3 linked regions of the Homo sapiens genome follow. The protein of the gene in region 2 interacts with the protein of the main gene of each other region in a pairwise test. Each region holds a gene or a part of one and is shown on either strand. Other genes may lie near its edges.

Region 1 (3,749 bases), on a different chromosome or scaffold from region 2:
AGCTTCTCTTCTCCTTGATTAAGTTTGATACCTTCTCTGCTGAAATTATTCTTTCACTAACTTTCTTGTTCTTTAGAGCAATAAAGCGGAAACGATGCTAAATGAGAAAAAGACTGTCTCCCATCCCATTCATCCCACATCTACTGGGCACCTCATATGAGCACTATTCTGCTTCTGGACATAATTCAAAAAAGATTTCTCACTCTCTCTTTCTCTTTCTCTCTTTTCCTCTCTCTTTTTCTCATTCTCTTGACCCACCCCCCTCTAACTCCCTGTGCCAGACTCTGACTATAGGACGAACATCTGCTTGCATGACTGACTATAGGACCAACATAGCATAAGTGATCAGTATCGGCTGACTGAATCTCTAAAAGGATCCAGATAAAGAGAAGAGCGGGCCCAAAAAGAAAAAGAAGAGGAAAAGGAGAACAGAGAAAGTAAGGAGAAAAAGAAGCAAAGGACAAAAGCAAAGGTAAGAGATGAAAACAAGAAGCCAAGCAAGGAGGCTGCTAGTAAAAGGTGGGAAGAAAGAGAAAAGGGCAGTGAAGGGTCAAGAAAAAAGAGTTCTATTCTTGCTCCAGCCCATCTTCTATCTTGCTCTACAGCACCACACCACCTCCCCAGCAGACCCCCATACCTAGGCCCTAAATTTTTCCAAGCTCGGAAAAGGAAGCCTGTTCCACATGGTCCTCCAGAAGCCATTACAGATAGAATCACTTTAACTTCATCCGCAATAGAGAAGTGCAGTTGTGCAAAACCCAAGAGTCTTATGTGATTGTTGTAGAGGCTCAGGGTGGGCAGCAGGGAAGAACATGGGTAAAGGATACACTAAACTCTTCCAGTCCACATCCAGAGACAAACTCAGAGCAGAGCAGGAAACAAATGGATGGCCAGGACTACAGTACGGACTACAGCAGCTCTTCACTTACTCCTTTCCAGGGTAAGGGAAAGGAGAGGCAGAGAGCTTAGAGAAACTAGGCATCATCACCTTATCCTACCATCTCTAATCCTAGGAACAAAATGCAAGTTGGGTGACCCATAGGGCAAGGAAGAATTCCATCTGCATGATACCTAAGATCAGGAGAACTATATGAGAAAGAAGAAGTAAAAAAGGAAGAGGAACAGGAGAAGGTGAAGAGAAAAAAGATGATGAGTTGCTTCATTGTCCAGTTGGTAACTGGCGCTTCATGTCATTACAGGTTATAATAATGTGCTTTTTTATAACAGAAGTTAGGTAATTGCAGTTAGGAGTGACCTGGTCTGGTTGGGACAGCTCGCACAATGTCAAATCAAAAGGTCGGGAGCTTTTGTGACATTTTCCCCCCTTGAGCTCACAGGCAATGACAGGACTGTTACAGACAGCTTTGACTGTGTTTAGATCCTCATGGATGAATGCATACTGGGCTATGCAACTCTGACTGGGCTCCTTCATCTTGTGTGCCATCATATCATTGCATTCTCTATCTGTCTGGTCAAGCCTAAGATAGTCTTTGTTGCTCTGAAAGAGAGCTGAGGCTCTGAGCATCTTGTTACCCCCAACCTCATCTTCACCGAGGATGGGATCTTCTGGCCAGCCAGGTTGCACCACTTCTTTGTTGCTAAGCACCAGCGTTTCTGTGGTTTGGGTGCCGTCTCCCTCCTCAGTGGCCTCAGCTTTGTCCTGTGAGTCACTGGACCAAAATTCATTGAGCGGTTGATCACTCTCCTCCAAGACTGCTGTAGCCATATGAAGTCCCAACCCCAGGCCCATCCCCAGGCCCAGCAGCAGCATCAGCAACATGAAAAAGATCTGCACCAGATTCAGCTTCATTTTGCCTGGAGAGGAAGCGGGAAATGGAAGAACGTGACTTTGAGATCAAAATTGGCTCTAGTAGAGACTGTAATCTCACTAAGCCCTACAGCATTGTATCTGGGGTCTCCTGTGTCTTCTGCACATTACTCTACCCTCTTCAAGGCAGCGATTTCTCTTTCCATTCCCATTTCTCTTGTTCCTCCCTACCACATTCCCTGTTGCTGTGTAATAAAATGTGGAAGTTTCCTCATGTTTCTTCTCTTGAAGAGTAGGGAGATGACCAAGGGAAGCAGTTCTGAGGTAATTTACATATGGGAAATCAGTGAGGAAAGTTGACATCAATTGATTCTTTTTTTTTTTTTTTTCCTTTTGAGACAGGATCTTGCTCTGTCACCCAGATTGGAGTACAGTGGCACCATCATAGCTCACTGAAGCCTCAATCTCCCAGGGTCAAGTGATCCTTCTGCTTCAGCCTCCCAAGTAGCTGGGATCACAGGCACACACTACCATGCCCAGCTCTTTTTTTTTTTTTTTTTGAGACGAGTCTCGCTATGTTGCCCAGGCTGGTCTCAAACTCCTGCGGTCAATTAATCATCCCACTTTGGCCAAAGTGCTGGGATTACAAGTGTGAGCCACCATGCCCCTGACATCAATTGATTCTTAAACAGAAATTTGTGCCAAATAACCAGAGAATGATTGAGAAGACAAGCGTGTACAGTGTCACACTCTCCTTTAGGGAAATTCTTGTAGAAAGCCTTATTGTCAATATAGGACTAGATTTACCACAGAAGACCATCTCTTTATTTTTAACCCAAATTTGCTTTTGCTTATTCAAATATCTATTACTCTTCTTGTTACCCACCTTCCCCACAAAAGATAAAAAGGAATAGAAAAAGTACCACAGTCCATTCTTACTCCTAAGCTGAGGCTGGAGGGAAGATGTCCAACTTTACATCTCAGGCCCCTGCTAAAGCTACATCTTGTTAAGCCAGATTCCTTCTACTATTAAAGATCTCTTAACATCTGAGTAGTCTTGCTGATTAGGTTTATACTCTCAGGGAAGAAATGGAATAAGAATGAAACCAAAGAAAATCAAACAATTGACCTGCTGGGGGTTCCCCTACTCATAAAGATTCTAAGGAGGCCAGGCTTGGTGGCTTCTGCCTATAATCCCAGCACTTTGGGAGGCCAAGGCAGGTGGATCACCTGAGGTAGGAGTTCAAGATCAGCCTGGCCAACATGGTGAAACCCCATCTCTACTAAAAATACAAAAATTAGCCGGCATGGTGCCACGCACCAGTAGTCCCAGCCACTGGGGAAGCTGAGACACGAGAATTGCTTGAACCCGTGAGAAGGCCAAGATGGTGCCACTGCACTACAGCCTGTGTGACGGAGTGAGATTCTGTCTCAAAAAAAGAAGATCCTAAGGAGAGCTGAGCATGCATCTTTGTCTTGCTAGGCCAGTCTCATCCCCTTAACAAAGAGACACATTCCCTGCCAGAAAAAAAAAAAATTGCTATGAAGAACATTATTGAGGCAATTGATAAAAGTATGATCTCTGTAGTAGATAAGAGTATTATGGCAGTCCCCCTTATCCACAGGGAATATGTTCCAAGACCCCAGTGAATGTCTAAGGCCCTATATGTACTGTTCTCTTCCTATACATACATATCTACATAAGTTTAATTTATAAATTAGTAATATATATTAACAACAACTAATAAAATAGAATAATTATAACAATATACTGTTCAAAATTTGCAGATAAAAGATTCTTTCTTACTGTAGATTTTACCAATTGCAGCATGTTTTTCCCCCCTTTCCTTATTAAGTTGAGACACTTTCACCTTTTCACTCAAACGGAGCACTTTACGGGTTCTTTTTGACGTGTCTGAATTGCCAGCATCATCATTCTTGCACTTTGCGGCTATTACTAGGTAAAATAAGGGTTATGTGA
Region 2 (3,749 bases):
CTAGTTTATGCGCATAGGACTGTTTATACTATTCTTTGATGGTTGTTTGTATTTCTGTGGGGTCAGTGGTAATATCATTTTTGATTGTGTTTGTTTGAATCTTCTCTCTTTTTTCTTCATTAGTATAGCTAGCGGTCTATTTTATTAATTTTATCAAAAAACTAGCTCCTGTATTCATTTTTTTTTTTTTTGAAGGGTTTTCTGTGTCTCTATCTCCTTCAGTTCAGCTCTGATCTTGGTTATTTCTTGTCTTCTGCTAGCTTCGGGGTTTGTTTGCTCTTGTTTCTCTAGTTCTTTTATTTGTGATATTAGGTTGTCAACTGGAGATCTTTCTAGCTTTTTGATTTGGGCATTTAGTGCTATAAATTTCTTTCTTAACAAGAATGAAATTTTAGCTGTGTCTGAGATTCTGGTATGTTGTATCTTTGTTCTCATTCAAAGAAGTTCATTCTTCTCATTCAAGAAGTTCTGCCTTAATTTTATTATTTACCCAAAAGTCATTCAGGAGCAGGTTGTTCAATTTCCATGTAGTTGTGTGGTTTTGAGTGAATTGAGTGCCATGTGGTGATGAGAAGAACGTATATTCTGTTGTTTTTGGGTGGAGAGTTCTGTAGATATCAGGTCCACTTGATCCAGAGCTGAGGTCAGGTTTGAATATCTTTGTTAGTTTTCTGTCTTGATGATCTGTCTACTATTGTCAGCAGAGTGTTAAAGTCTCCCACTATTATTGTGTGGGAGTCTAGTCTCTTTGAAGCTCTCGAAGTACTTGCTTTATGAATCTGGGTGTTCCTGTATTGGGTGCATATATATTTAAGGTAGTTAGCTCTTCTTGTTGAATTGAACCCTTTACCATTATGTAATGCCCTTCTTTGTCTTTTTTTTTTCTCTTGAGACAGAGTCTTGCTCTGTCACCCAGGCTGGAGTACAGTGGCGCAATTTCAGCTCACTGCAACCTCTGCTTCCTTCTTTGTCTTTTTTGATCTTCTTTGGTTTAGAGTCTGTTTTGTCAGAAACTAGGATTGCGACCACTGCTTTTTTCTGTTTTCCATTTGCTTGGTAAATTTTCCTTCATCCCTGTATTTTGAGCCTATGTGTGTCTTTGTATGTATAGTGGGTCTCTTGAATACAGCTCACTGATGGGTCTTGTTTTTTTATCTGGTTTGCCATTCTGTGTCTTTTAATTGGGGCATTTAGCCCATTTACATTTAAGGTTAGTATTGTTATGTGTAAATTTGATCCTGTCATCATGATGCTAGCTGGTTATTTTGCAAACTTATGTGGTTGCTTCACAGTGTCACTGGTCTGTATACTTCAGTGTGTTTTTGTAGTGGCTGGTAACAATTTTTCCTTTCCATATTTAGTGCTTCCTTCAGGAACTCTTGTAAGGCAGGTCTGGTAGTAATGAATTCCCTCGGCATTTGCTTGTCTGAAAAGGATCTTATTTCTCCTTTGCTTATGAAGCTTAGTTTGACCAGATATGAAATTCTGGGTTGGAAATTCTTTTAAGGATGTTGAATATGGGCCCCCAATCTCTTCTGGCTTATAGGGTTTCTGCTGAGAGATCTGCTGTTAGTCTGATGGGCTTCCCTTTGTAGGTGGCCTGGCCTTTCTCTCTGGCTGAATGGCAGGGTTCTTAACGTGTCCATGTACCTCCTGTGGGAAAGCCATGGATGGACTTTAGGAAGCTCATGGATTTTTCCAAAATTATATATAAAAATCTGTGTACATGTGTATGTGTGCATTTTTCCAGGGAGAGCATCATATTTTTCATGAGATTGGCACAGGAATCTGCCAATATATGAAAGGTTAAAAACTACTCTCTTACATAAAAGTGGTCCTAGGAAGATATCTAACATCTGCAGTTTGAGTATTTGGCCATTGTGGTTCCCTAGCTTGCCCCTCAGCATTGTCTGCCTTGTTTTCTATCTTTAGAGTTTATTTGATATAGATAGATAGATATAGATATAGATATCTCATGTGTTTGTCTTCTATTCTTACAAAACAACAAAATAATGTATGGGCCTTTTTGAGAACATACACGCTCTGGTCCAATATGTGGTAACTTTGATTTAGTGGGTTTAGGATGTTACCAGGGCATATCAAGCTCCTGGGGTGACTGTATACTTTGGATGAGAATTATTCTATCCATGATATGCCCTTGGAAGGCAGGAATCAGTTTTTATTCATCTTTTGTTTCCTTCAAAAAATGTGTCTTGCATCCATTAAATCTTCTGTTGAACTGAAATGCACAGATGACTCATTCCCAGTGAGATAAGTCTTTTTAGCAACTGGTAGTTTTTATTTTTCCCTTATCAAATTTCAGCCTTCTTACCATGCTAGCAAATACATGTTTTGTAGATCTTGTGACTTCATTTTTTTTTTTAAGAATGGTTACCCATTCTAGGACTCAGGTTATGGCATTGTAACAAGATGTGAAAAATGGAATTCTTTTAGTTTCAGATTTGGCTTAGGCTCCAAGCTGCTATGTACCAAAATAAGGTGTGAGACCACCATGTAGGAGTTGCAAAAGATGGGGATAAAAAACATGTTTTGTGACTCATAAAAAAGGCCAGGTTGATGGAAATTAAAACATGATTTTTGGAGAGAGCTATTAGAGTTTTAGGGCTCCCTATATGAAGGAATTAGGGAGGCTTGCTCTCATCTCAAGCCCTCACTGAGAAAGGGCTTTTCTGGTACAGAGACTTTCTACCTGATAGTTCAACTGGATAGCCAGTGGCAGAATTAGCTGTGTGGTTTGGGCAGTTACTGTACTGATGAGAGTGGAGCAGAGGTGTTTCCTGTGGACCAAGGTGAGCACACACAATTGTGAGAGAGTGTGTCTGAATATGTTCAAGAGGCTTTCCTGGAAGTGTGACAGGATCCCAACACAGAGAATCTCTGGAGGACTGCCAAGAACCTAAGACTGAAGGGAAAGTCATAGCATCCATCCAGAGGGTAAATTACCCTTTTCAAAGAATAGGTAAGAAATCTCCAGGGCCTAGGGAAAGGAGAAGTGTCTGAAGAACATGAGAAAGTACCCCATAAGAGAACCACAGTAGTTTTTGAATACCTTGCAAACTCAAAAAGCACCAATGCAAAACTAGTAAGATAATACCAGTCATCAAATAAGAACTTTGCTGCTCCTTTCACCTTTCCCTCCATTTAACCCTCAACCTGGAGGGCCACAACTCTTAATCAGCAAGCTGAGGGAAGAGGACTGGAAGTACTACAGGATAAAGAAGCACTATAGGCCTTGGTGTGCTGGCTCACACCTGTAATCCCAGCACTTTGGGAGGCTAAGATGGGCGGAGCACTTGAGGTCAGGAGTTCCAGACCAGCCTGGCCAACCTGGCGAAACCCCGTCTCTACTAAAAATACAAAAATTAGCTGGGCATGGTGGTGCATGCCTGTAATCCCAGCTACTTGGGTGGCTGAGGCAGGAGAATCACTTGACTCCGGGAGGCAGAGGTTGCAGTGAGCTGAGGTCATGCCATTGCACTCCAGCCTGGGTGACAGAGTGAAACTTCATCTCAAAAAAAAAAAATAGCCCTATAGGACAGCGGTCCCCAACCTTTTTGTAACAGGGACTGGTTTCATGGAAGACAGTTTTTCCATGGACCATACCGGGTGTAGGGGGTAGGGGCAGGATGGGGAGAGGAGCGTTAGATTCTCTTGAGGAGCACTCAACCTAGGTCCTTCACATGCGCAGTTCACAATAGGGTTCTTGCTCCTATGAGAATCTAATGCTG
Region 3 (3,749 bases), on a different chromosome or scaffold from region 2:
AAGCAATCCTCCCACCTCAGCCTCCCAAAGCTCTGGGAAGACAGGCAGCCACCCAGCCCAGACTCTTTCCTAACTGTTGATGGCTACCTGTCTCTGCTGATAGCTGTGAAAGGAAAATACAACCTTAGGACCCCAAGCTCAGGATGCCAAAGGGAAAAGTTAAGCTTGGGAACTCAGTCATGCAAAAAACAAAACCGAAAACAAAACTGCATTCCTTTTGTTGCCAAACAGATAGCTATAATTTCACATGCTTACTTTATCTTACGTAAAATGTAGATTTACTGAGCATGAGAAGAATGCACCCAGGGAGAGCAGAGAGTCAGTATAACTACTTCATGGTTACCCACAAGTGGAGAAAATCCGAAGGCAGAATGGCCCAGAGCAGCCGCAACATACAGGGAATTAGCAAACAATGAAAGCCACTTAGGCACGAGGGCTGGAGGGAGGACTCAAAAACACAGCCTATTCTGTTTTCGTAAGGAGGAAAGACAGTAATCCACTTTTCTGATACTCTATTTTCAGGGCTCACCTGGGCCTAAAACTGCACCAACCACAGATGAACTTTAGCTGGCAGTCAGATAGACTCGGTTTGTAAAAGGCAAGAGCACTGGGTCATATCCAAAAAAAGAACAAGAAAATAGACCGCGACCCCGATTTAGATCCAAAAGACCAGAGTCCAGATTGCGACCAATATCTGGTACTCTACTGTTTGTGAAATGAGACCAGTATCTGGTACTCTACTAGTTGTGAAAGGGTGCTTTTCTCATACCAGCAGAGGGGCAAAAGGCAAAATGAGGCCCCTGCCTGGTTCCGTAAAATATTTTACCTTCCTGGTCGGTGGCTTTTTTTTTCTTTTTCTTTTTCTTTTTTTAAGAGAAAGCGTTTTGGATGGGGAGTCCCGCCCCGGGAGTCTTCACCAGGCGGCCAGAATGGCAAAGTCACAGGGATGGGGTTGAGGGTGGGGTTAGGGGTGAAGGGGCAGAGAGTTATTTGCAGCCCAAGAGCAAGTCTGCACAGCGTGAGGTCTGGCCCACTAATAGTCCCGAAAGAGGAAGCGGCGGGGATTTTATCCGGCCTGAAGCAGCCCCATAACTTCACTACCATGAACCGAGAAAAAAAAACTTCACGCCTATTCCTCCCTTACAGGAAGGGAGGGAAGGGGAAGGGGAAAAGGGGGCAGCAAATGAGCAGGGCGAACCGGCTTTTCTTTCTTCGGTAGCGCTCTGCTCAGATGTGAGAAGTAACGGGTCACCTGGCCACTAGGAACAAAAATGTGGTCCCGCTCTGGGCTCCGAGGCTGCGCGCGCCTCGAGGAGGAGCTGCCCGCAGCCCTGGCTGGAGCGAGCGCCCGGGACGCATCCCCCGACGCGGCGGGAACAGGATGCGGGACCGCGAGGAGACAATACGCCCGCCTGGGCACGCGCGCTTTAAGGGAAGGGGGTCTCCAAAGTCAGCCCCCACCCGGGAGGAGCAGGCGCCCGCGCTCCCCACACCCTCCTGCGCCCCCTCTGTCGGCAGCCATCTCCGACACAGCTCCTCCGAGCTCGCGCTCTCCATCGCGCCCTTCTTCCTTCAGCACACTAGGCTGCCCTGGGACTTACGATTGGCTTGGGTCCCCGGTCCCGGTCCCCGCCGCGGGAGGACGGCTCCAGCACAGGCTTTGCGCGCAGGTCGAGGGCCGAGGCGCCGCTGCTTGCAGGCGGCTGCGGTGGAGCTTGCGGCCCGGCACTTAGAGGGGCGCGGGCGGCGATGCCCCCGCTGGCTCCCACCTTCTGGCCTGCAGCGGCCGGCTCTACTGAACTTCAGAGTTACTCATTTCCTGGATGTCACAAAAACTTTTTCCTCCTTATAAGAACAAAACACCCGCCTCTACCCGCGGCCCCGGAAGCTCCTTAAGGAGGACCGTGTGGGTTTCGGTGGTTGGGCCCAGGATCCGCCGGGAAGACCTTCCCAGTGAGCCCCCAGAAACTTCCCCGGCACGGCAGAACTGGAGAGTGACTGGGAGAGACGGAATCAGGCCAGTGGAGTAAACTGGAGCGAGTGGACAGGGGCGCGGGGAGGACGCCCTTAAAAGTCGTCCTAAGCCGCGGAGCGGAAGGGGTTAAGTCCTTACCAGTCGGGGAGAGTTTTCTGCGGCGCGTTTTACAAGTGGCGGAATTCCTGGGGCCACCTATTTAGTCTCTTGGAGGAAAATATAACTCTAGACAAAACGCCAGCCTTTTTCTCTTTTGCAGCTTGAAAGGATTAAAATAGCTTACTACCGTTTTTTTTTTTTTTTGAGAAGGAGTTTCGCTCTTGTTGCCCAGGCTGGAGTGCAATGGTGGCGCTATCTCGGCTCACCGCAACCTCCGCCTCCCGGGTTCGAGCGATTCTCCTGCCTCAGCCTCCCGAGTAGCTGGGATTACAGGCATGTGCCACCACGCCCGGCTAATTTTGTATTTTTAGTAGAGAAGGTGTTTCTCCATGTTGGTCAGGCTGGTCTCGAACTCCCTTCTCGGCCTTCCGAAGCGCCTGGGATTACAGGCGTGAGCCACCGCGCCCGACTTTTATGATAATCAAATGCATGGTTGCTTTTCTCCGGGATTAACCGGGCACAAAGGAGAACAGTGACCGGATACTGTACGGGACAGGCGCGGTAGTTTCTGGTTACTGTTGTGACGGTAGATCAAGTGTTACTACCCCTATGTTAGAAACGAGAGAACTGAGGCCTGGAGGAGCAGCAGCAGCGTTCTGGTCGAGCTTAATAGTTTATGAAATCCATAACTTCTATTGTCTTCCCTTTGACCTGCCCAAATCCTACCATCAGTACAAAAGGCAGAGCAGGGTTTGAATGAATTCTCCATTAAGCGGCTTTGGGGGCACCAAATGCCAGTGAAGGCACATTGGGGAAATTGGAACACAGTGTCCAAAATGATCACCATTGCTACTGCTATTTGGTCTTAGATCACCTTTTTTTCGTCTTTTCCTTTAACACTCGCCTGGAAGACTTTTTGGCTGAGTCTGAAAGATAAACAGGCAATGAGAAAATGTTCTAAAAATAGACTCCCTGGCCCTTGGCCCAGGGTACTTTTGTTTTCAAGTTTCTACTGCTGCTCAAATTCTTTCCTTACGTAAGAGGTTATGGCAGAATTTTGGGGGCCAGTATGTGTGTTGGAGGTGGTGGGGGCGATCTGGGGAAACGGTCTTGAAAGAGCTGTATTTCCAAAATGTCTAGAAGTTGGTCCGGTGGGTTACTCACACCCTCCGCAAAGCAGGTGGGGGAAATTTCTGTGAAGTAAGAGCGCTGGGCTGAGCTTTGTCATCCTTGGGCTAAGAGTTCAGCGTTGTGCTGGAATGCCAAGGTTAGTGCTTGAATGCCCTCTGGGATTGTCATCCCGTCTGCAAAGTTGTTTCAGCAATTTCTAACCAGCCATGTATATTTATATAAGGAATATTTATTATATTTGTTTTGCTTTTAACCTGATGATTTCACCTTCTGTGTTCTGATTGGTTCCTGTCTGTTCTAAGGTCCACCCTTCTACCTGGCTTGTAAGTCGTTCATGAACTGGCCTCTGCTTATCTCACCAGCCTCATATCTCACTCTGTGTCCCACACAAAACTCCTTGCAGTTCTTGGAACCTGTGCTTCCCAGAACGTGATATGCTCTTTGATATGCTGTTTGCATGATATGCTTTTTCTCTCCCCTTGGATATTCATATGTACTCTACTTTCTGCCTGCCACAGCCACCCCACCTCCTCCTCCAAACTGT

Evidence for each region.
Region 1: the proteins of SGTB (region 2) and RNASE10 interact in binary tests that used the Homo sapiens proteins (3 or more experiments, as listed by UniProt).
Region 3: the proteins of SGTB (region 2) and ITPRIP interact in binary tests that used the Homo sapiens proteins (3 or more experiments, as listed by UniProt).

Annotation. Positions count from the first base shown.
Region 1 is NC_000014.9:20,508,533-20,512,281, reverse strand, and holds part of RNASE10 (inactive ribonuclease-like protein 10 precursor), read right to left. Parts: intron 1,816-3,749; 5' UTR 1,811-1,815; coding exon 1,160-1,810; 3' UTR 1-1,159. UniProt on the Homo sapiens protein: Secreted proximal epididymal protein required for post-testicular sperm maturation and male fertility. May be involved in sperm adhesion to the egg zona pellucida. Does not have ribonuclease activity.
Region 2 is NC_000005.10:65,673,457-65,677,205, reverse strand, and holds part of SGTB (small glutamine-rich tetratricopeptide repeat-containing protein beta), read left to right. Parts: intron 1-3,749. UniProt on the Homo sapiens protein: Co-chaperone that binds directly to HSC70 and HSP70 and regulates their ATPase activity.
Region 3 is NC_000010.11:104,336,645-104,340,393, forward strand, and holds the start of ITPRIP (inositol 1,4,5-trisphosphate receptor-interacting protein precursor), read right to left. Parts: upstream 1,822-3,749; 5' UTR 1,602-1,821; intron 1-1,601. UniProt on the Homo sapiens protein: Enhances Ca(2+)-mediated inhibition of inositol 1,4,5-triphosphate receptor (ITPR) Ca(2+) release.